Homo sapiens: one gene and its partner. The protein of the gene in region 1 interacts with the protein of each later gene in a biochemical or structural test. Each region holds a gene or a part of one and is shown in the gene's direction. Other genes may lie near its edges. The genes, in order: ITIH2 and FAM20C.

Region 1 (3,817 bases):
AATTTTTCACAGTGTAAATTTTCTTAAGTATTAAGATACAGGCTGAGTGTGGTGGCTCATGCCTGTAATCCCAGCTCTTTGGAGGCCAAGGTGGGAGGATCACTCGAGCCCAGAGGTTTAAGGCCAGCTTGGGCAACATAGTGAGATCCATCTGTTCAACAGATAATTTTTTTAATTAAAATACATATATTGAAAAGACACAAACTACTTGTTTGTTTTGATTAAATAGATGAGAAAATGATGTAGGGAAAGAACATGTTTTTCCCTGCTCTTTGTCAGTACCAGGCATCGTATTTAAATTTGGGAACAAGTAAGAGATAAGATTCTGATTTGGGGACTATTAACCCAGCTGACTTTTGTAAAAATTTAATTATTACTATTATTTTTTGAGACAGAGTCTTGCTTTGTCACCCAGGCTGGGTGACAAGTACGTTCAATGGCAGTGCAATGGTGTGGTGCAGTGGTTCAGGAGTGCAGTGCTGCGATCTCGGCTCACTGCAACCTCCGCCTCCTGGGTTCAGGCGATTCTCGCACCTCAGTCTCCTGAGTAGCCAGGATTACAGGCATGTGCCACCAGGCCCGGCTAATTTTTGTATTTTTAGAAGAGACAGGGTTTACCATGTTGGCGAGGCTGGTCTCAAACTCCTGAACTCAGGTGATCCGCCTGCCTTGGCCTCCCAAAGTGCTGGGATTACAGGTCAAGCCACCATGCCCGACCTCCTGCTGACTTTTATCATAAGTTTGTCCAAGAGTTTTTCACGCTGACCGTAACAGAAAGGGAAAAAAATGCCAGGCTCTTAAACCAAAGGTAATGTTCTCAACAAGTCTTTGTCTTCTCTCTGTTTTTAATCTGATAATTACGAGCATTTTCCCTTGTCCCAAACGTCCTGTGTGAATAAATTAAGAGGTATCTGCTGATTCTTTGAAGAATCTCAGAGTAAAATGTTTTAGATCAGCTGGGCGTAATCCCTGTAATCCCAGCACTTTGGGAGGCCCAGGCAGGCAGATCACAAGACAGAAGTTCAAGACCAGCCTGGCCAAGATGGTGAAAACCCGTCTCTACTAAAAATACAAAAATTAGCCGGGCTTGGTGGCGGGTGCCCGTAATCCCAGCTACTTGTGGGGCTGAGGTGGGATAATTGCTTGAACCCAGGAGCCGGAGATTGCAGTGAGACGAGATCCCACCACTGCACTCCAGCCTGGGCAACAGAGTGAGACATCGTCTCAAAATAAATAAATAAATAAAATAAAATGCTTTAGATCTACAAAGCAGTAGGAACATAATTTCTCTCTCTCTCTCTGTGAATTGTAGAAATTCTACAACCAGGTCTCCACTCCATTGCTCCGGAATGTTCAGTTCAACTATCCCCATACATCAGTCACGGACGTCACTCAAAACAATTTCCATAACTACTTTGGAGGCTCAGAGATTGTGGTGGCAGGAAAATTTGACCCTGCTAAATTGGATCAAATAGAGAGCGTTATCACGGCGACTTCGGTACTTCCACTTATCCATTTATTCTATCTACTAACTGACCCCCTAGATACAGTCCCTCTTGAATGTCAGCTCTGCCTGCCTGGAATCATGGGTGTAGAACAGAAGCAATCAGTGATGGAGAAGGCATGAGAATATCTCTGCCATCTTCCCAGCTATTCCATAAATCCTGACCTTTTCACCCAAGCCCAATCCCAAGCACAGGAATGCATTTCCTTCCTCCGTAGGCTTTGCCTTCCATTTCTTTTTTATTCCCATTCATTCGCAGCAGGTACTAAAAATGTGAATCAATGAACTATAATTCTGTTACCCAGTGTCTCTCAACTGAACCTTCCATCATCTAGGCTAACACGCAGTTAGTCTTGGAGACCCTGGCCCAGATGGACGACTTGCAGGATTTTCTATCGAAAGACAAGCATGCAGATCCCGATTTCACCAGGAAACTGTGGGCCTATCTAACCATCAACCAACTGCTAGCTGAACGGTAAGAAGAGAAGAGTACCCACACCACGAGATCTGCAAAACTGAAATGTCCACCGTGAATATATGAAGTCATACACAAAAAGAGTTTGGAAGCAAGAAAGACAGCACATTAGCACAGGCTTGGATTATTACCTTCCACTAGTTCTGAACACTTCAGAGAAAGCTGGGTTCACTCTTTTTCTTCTTTATTGAGGTATAACATACAGTAAAGTATGCAAAATGCATTAATTTTTTAATTTTTATTTTATTTATTTATTTTTATTTTTTTTGAGGCAGAGTCTCGCTCTGTCTCCCAGGCTGGAGTGCAGTGACGCCATCTCAGCTCACTGCAAGCTCCGCCTCCCGGGTTCACACCATTCTCCTGCCTCAGCCTCCTGAGTAGCTGGGATTACTGGTGCCCACCACCACGCCCAGCTAATTTTTTTGTATTTTAGTAGAGACGGGGTTTCACCATGTTAGCCAGGATGGTCTCGGTCTCCTGACCTCGTGATCCACCCGAGTGGGCCTCCCAAAGTACTGGGATTACAGGCATGAGCCACCGCACCCGGCCAAAATGCATTAATTTTAAGTGCACCATTCAATGGATTTTTATATCTATCATCCGTGTAATCACCACCCAGATCCAGATGTAGGTTCCCTTGTTCTCCCTCAACACCCACCCCCCTCCTCCACTGTAACCACTCTTTCAATGTCTGTGATCATCAGTTTTGCCTGATCCTAAATTTCACATAATCATGCAATCTGTATTCCTCTGTTCCTGGCTTCTTTCACTCAATATGATGTTGGTGAGATTCATCCATGTTGCTTCATGTATCAGGCATGTATTTGCATTTACTGTCTCGATCTCCTGACCTCATGACCCGCCTGCCTCGGCTTCCTAATGTGCTGGGATTACAGGCATGAGCCACTGCACCCAGCCCTGCATTTACTCTTGAAAATGGCTTCTTGTCCAAAGAGAAATTGATGATTATTAACGATTATGGTGTTCCCTAAGGAAGGGCTCCCCTATGCTCATCTATGTCCCCTCTGGTTGCTTCATGTATCAGTAATTTATTTGCATTTACTCTTGAAAACGGCTTCTTGTCCAAAGAGAATTTAATGATTATGTGATTATGATGTTCCCTAAGGAAGGGCTCCCCCATGCTCATCCATGGCCCCTCTGACTTCTCAGCTGAGCTGCATCTCAACTCTCCAACATGAAAACTATATCCCCAGAGCAATGGATGGTTGACCACCTGCATCAAAATTACACAGAGGTGTTTGATAAAAGTTCCCATTCCCAAGCCTCATTCTGTCTATAAGACAGGATTCTCAGGAAGGTGGAACAGGGTCTAAATGAGGCTGGGAAAATGAAATGCAGTTGTATGACTGAACTCATAGAGAAAATCCCTGATGTCAATAAGGTTAGAAGAAATACGCAAGGCTGTAAACTATGACTGTGAAGTAAACGAGAAATAGCTCCCTCTCTGACAGAAGCACACTAGATGTATTTACAGGTATATAGCAAATTGTTGCAGAAGTTAAATATTGATTTTAAAACAATTCCTATAAAAAGATCAGCAGTTGCTAAAGGTTGGGGAGTGGGAGATACGTGAGTAGGTGGAGCACAGAGCATTTTTATGGCAGTGAAAATACCCTATATGATACTCCAATGGTGGACACCTGTCATTATGCATTTAACCAAACCCATAGAATGTACAACACCAAGGGTCAGCCACGTTAACTGTGGACTCTGCGTGATAATGATGTGTCAGCTTCTTCCATTGTAACAAATGCACCACTCTGATGTGGGATGGATGTTGATAGTGGGGAAGGCCGTGTATATGGGGGACCGTGTGT
Region 2 (3,817 bases), on another chromosome or scaffold:
GGCTGATCCTTCTCATCTGGGGAAGCCAGGGCTGGGCAGGTGCCTGAGCCTCATGAGGGTCTCAGTCTAGATGCTGGGCCCTATTCTCCCTGCTGCCTTGGGCTTGGAGATGCTCACAGGTGAGTTCTCATTTGTGAAGAGGTCTGTCTTCCTGAGGAAGCAGGGGACCCTCACCTGTGAACCAAGTGTGCCATGGGAGCTGCTCCATGTCCAGGTCCAGGTCTCCTGGTCTGCAGGGAACGGCACAAGAGGGCTGGCCTAGGCCAGGAGGATGTGATCTGTCCTAGAAGGGGGCTGACCTGCTTGCTGACCCCGCTTGCTGCTGCCTGGCTGGCCTGACTCAGCCACGGCTGTTCCGAGGGCCCTTCTGAGTACGAACTTCCAGTTGGAGGATCTGGGTGAAGACCCAGCTGCTTGAGATAGCAGCCTCTGGCTAGGCCCTTGGCGTGGCCAAGCCAATCAGGCAGGTTTAGAGCCTGGTGCCCCTAGACAGGTCCTGCAACCAAGAACAGGGGTAGCCTTCAAAGGCCAGCCCTGCCTTCCAACCACCGCTCCACAGCGAGGGAAACCAAGGCTCTTAGGGCAGGAGGCTTGTCCGAGATTAGCACCTGCGTGCTCCAGGCTCTGAGTTCTGTCCCCTCAGCTGTCCGGCCCCTGGGTGCTCACTTTAATCTCAAGTCATTCATCTTACTATTAAACGTGAGCCCAGAAATATTGTTGTAATGGAGAACGATGCCTGCGAGTCTCCAAAGCCTTCCCTCGGAACGGTTCCATTAAATCTCTCCTGCTCAGAACCACCCAATCCAATTCATGGAGCGCCACGTGGTCTACAGCACAGCTGGTTAGGGCCAGCGGAGGTTTATTTATAGCTGGGCTCCTGGCTGCCTGGTAACCGGCCATTGCCACCTTTAAAGAGTCTTGGGATATTATCTACCTCTATTCAGCTTGAAATCGGGCATGCAGTGCCTTGGGCTGGGGCTGGCGATAATTAAATTTCTATCATGCACAATTATGGATGCAAAGAATGAATGACATCCCACTGGCATGTGAGGATTCGGGCAGCTTCTGGACTGAAATACAGACTTCATAATTGCTCCATCCAGATTGGGACAAAGACTGTGGTTGGGAGAACATGCCTGAACAAAGAAAAATGACTCTGCAGGACCAAAGTTCTTGACACTGATTGATCTGCCAAAAGGGGAAGAATGAGTCCAGCTAGAATCCAGGACTAACCAGCGGGTGAGCTTCAAGGAACAAAGGGCTTCCGCTGGGTCAGCCCACGAGAGGGAGCTGCCTGCAGGTACCTGGGAGGGCACAGCCACCGTGTCTGTTCCTTGGGAGCAGGGCTCCTTGGAAGGCAGCGCCAGCTCCAGAAAGGCCACTGTTCCCCCTCCCACCCACCCCAGGTGGCAACTGCCCCTGCAGGTCACGGTCCCAGGGCCTCGCTCGGCCGGCCTAGAGAGAGAAAAGGGAAGATGCCCAATTAGCTGGACGCCCATGGCCCCAGGGCTGGGGGACCTTGGGTTATCCTGAAAGAAGGACAATGACCACCTGCAAAGGACGATTTCAAGTGGAGCCTGGAGGAGGCGGCAAATAGCTCAGTCCGCACTCAACTCCCTTCCCAGCCGTCTGGTGGAAGGTGAGGAGCAAAAGCTCATGCTGCTGAGGCCTGGGGCCACCCAGGCACCGGCCTCCCCGTGCTGAGCAGAGACAGCAGCCCCCTAGCTGCAGGAGTGTGCCCCGATGCGCACCTGCCGACTTTCCTTCTGATGCAGACATGGTCCCCACTGGGGCAAGGCTGCAGTTTTCTTTTAAAAAACAGATCTTTCAAAATAAAAGGGGCCTTGAAGAAAATCGTGGAATAAATAACAGTCTGGGGTGGAGGCGGTTCTGGCGAAAGTGTCCTGAGGGTGGTGTGTGATGGACGGGACTTTGGGCAGTGCTGATGGGGCCTTGCCTGTCACTTGAGGCCTCCAGGAGAGTCGAGGACTGGCAGATCCAGGTCCAGAGCAGGTGCAGGCTCCCAGCTCTTCCAGCCCCTTACCTCGCAGTAGGTTCCCACAGTTCTAGCCTCCTTGATGCCAGCCCCAGGGTGCCCACTGCTGGCCAACTATGTCCTTTTCCTCAAAACCAGGTCCCTCGGTGCCCAGGGTGAATGGGTATATGAGCCTGGGTGTGGGCACCCGGGGTCTGGGACACCGAGCAGACCTCTCTGGCTTGGAGATGTGTGCGGTGGGAAGAACAGGGTGACCTGAGCTCTCCCGGTGTCACATTCTCCACATCTGAGCCCTCTTTGGGTGAGGCCCTACTTCCAGCACACACAGCTGTCCCCATTCGTCTTCAGGAATAACTGACCCTTGAGGCCAGACAGTGGCTGTGAAGAGCAGGGGGACCGCCTGACCGTGACCCCCAAGGACAGACGCTGGCCCTCTTGACGGACGAGATGACCAGGGCCAAAGGCGGCAACATGGGGGCCCACGCTGACGGCAGCATCTCACACCTGGATGTGTTTCTGTGGTCCACAGGTCTGTAGGAGGTGGAACTGGTTAATTTAAAGTCAGGTTGGGGTTGTTGTTAGAAAGGGTTCCTGCTCCCACGAGAAACCAAGGATGAGTGGTGGCTGCACCCAGTCTCCATCCCCATGAGCACCCTGCGGGGTGTTGGGACCCCCAGGCCCGGGCCACACACCTCTCTCTTTCAGGGCCGTCTCTCCCTGTCTCTCCAGACCTGCTCTGGGTTCTTCCTTCTAGAGCTTCCCAGTGGGTTGCCGGAGCTGTCTGGGGTTATGTGGCTTGCCTAAGGCCACACCGATTGGGGCCTGGCACCAAAGTCCATTAGTATTTCTGTGACAGCAGCCATCTTTCTATGTAAGACGCTTATTTCATAAGAAATGCCAGCATCTCTTGGAGTCCTTCTGAGGAGGCAACTGCATACGAACATCGCCTCTGTCTCGTGCTGTGACCCGGGGAGAGACTGTGGGCAAAACCCAGTGGCGTCCGAGGGTCTGTGTGGCCCCGAACTCTTAGTGCTGACAGCAACATGAAATAATGAAGGCACAGGGCACTCTGTTCGTGCATGTTAACTTGTGTAACTAGTGCACGTTAATCACATTAACTAGCCATGTTAACTAGTGACGTAGATTAATAATGATGAATCAATAGGAATGAGTCCTGTATACTGACGGATATCCGGGCGATAGGATTCTTCAGCGAGGCCGGGGAAGAAGCAGACTGTCACCTTTGGTCTAAAGTTGGTGGGTTAAGTGGTGGGAGGTGCTCAGGGCAGGTGGCAGGAAGGGGAGAGCGTTCCAGATGGGGAGAACCTATTTGAAAGGCAGTGGACATCTTCCCATGTGCATAGAGAGGACGGGTGGCCACTGGGCGAGATTGCACTGGGGAATGGGGCTTGTGGACATCTTCCCGTGTGCATAGAGAGGACAGGTGGCTGCTGGGTGGGATTGTACTGGGGAATGGGGGGGCCCTATGGATATCTTCCAGTGTGCATAGAGAGAATGGGTGACTGCTGGGTGAGATTGCACTGGGGAATGGGGCCCGTGGACATCTTCCTGTGTGCATAGAGAGGACGGGTGACTGCTGGGTGGGATTGTACTGGGGAATGGGGGGGCGCTATGGATATCTTCCCATGTGCATAGAGAGAATGGGTGGCTGCTGGGTGAGATTGCACTGGGGAATGGGGCTTGTGGACATCTTCCCGTGTGCATAGAGAGGACGGGTAGCTGCTGGGTGGGATTGTACTGGGGAATGGGGGGGCCCTATGGATATCTTCCAGTGTGCATAGAGAGAATGGGTGGCTGCTG

What was found.
Region 2: of the proteins of ITIH2 (region 1) and FAM20C, one has a biochemical effect on the other in vitro, tested with the Homo sapiens proteins (one large-scale study listed by IntAct).

What each region holds. Positions count from the first base shown.
Region 1 is NC_000010.11:7,730,499-7,734,315, forward strand, and holds part of ITIH2 (inter-alpha-trypsin inhibitor heavy chain H2 precursor), read left to right. Parts: intron 1-1,312; coding exon 1,313-1,498; intron 1,499-1,839; coding exon 1,840-1,979; intron 1,980-3,817. UniProt on the Homo sapiens protein: May act as a carrier of hyaluronan in serum or as a binding protein between hyaluronan and other matrix protein, including those on cell surfaces in tissues to regulate the localization, synthesis and degradation of hyaluronan which are essential to cells undergoing biological processes.
Region 2 is NC_000007.14:198,830-202,646, forward strand, and holds part of FAM20C (extracellular serine/threonine protein kinase FAM20C precursor), read left to right. Parts: exon of another isoform or gene 1-1,854; intron 1,855-3,817. UniProt on the Homo sapiens protein: Golgi serine/threonine protein kinase that phosphorylates secretory pathway proteins within Ser-x-Glu/pSer motifs and plays a key role in biomineralization of bones and teeth.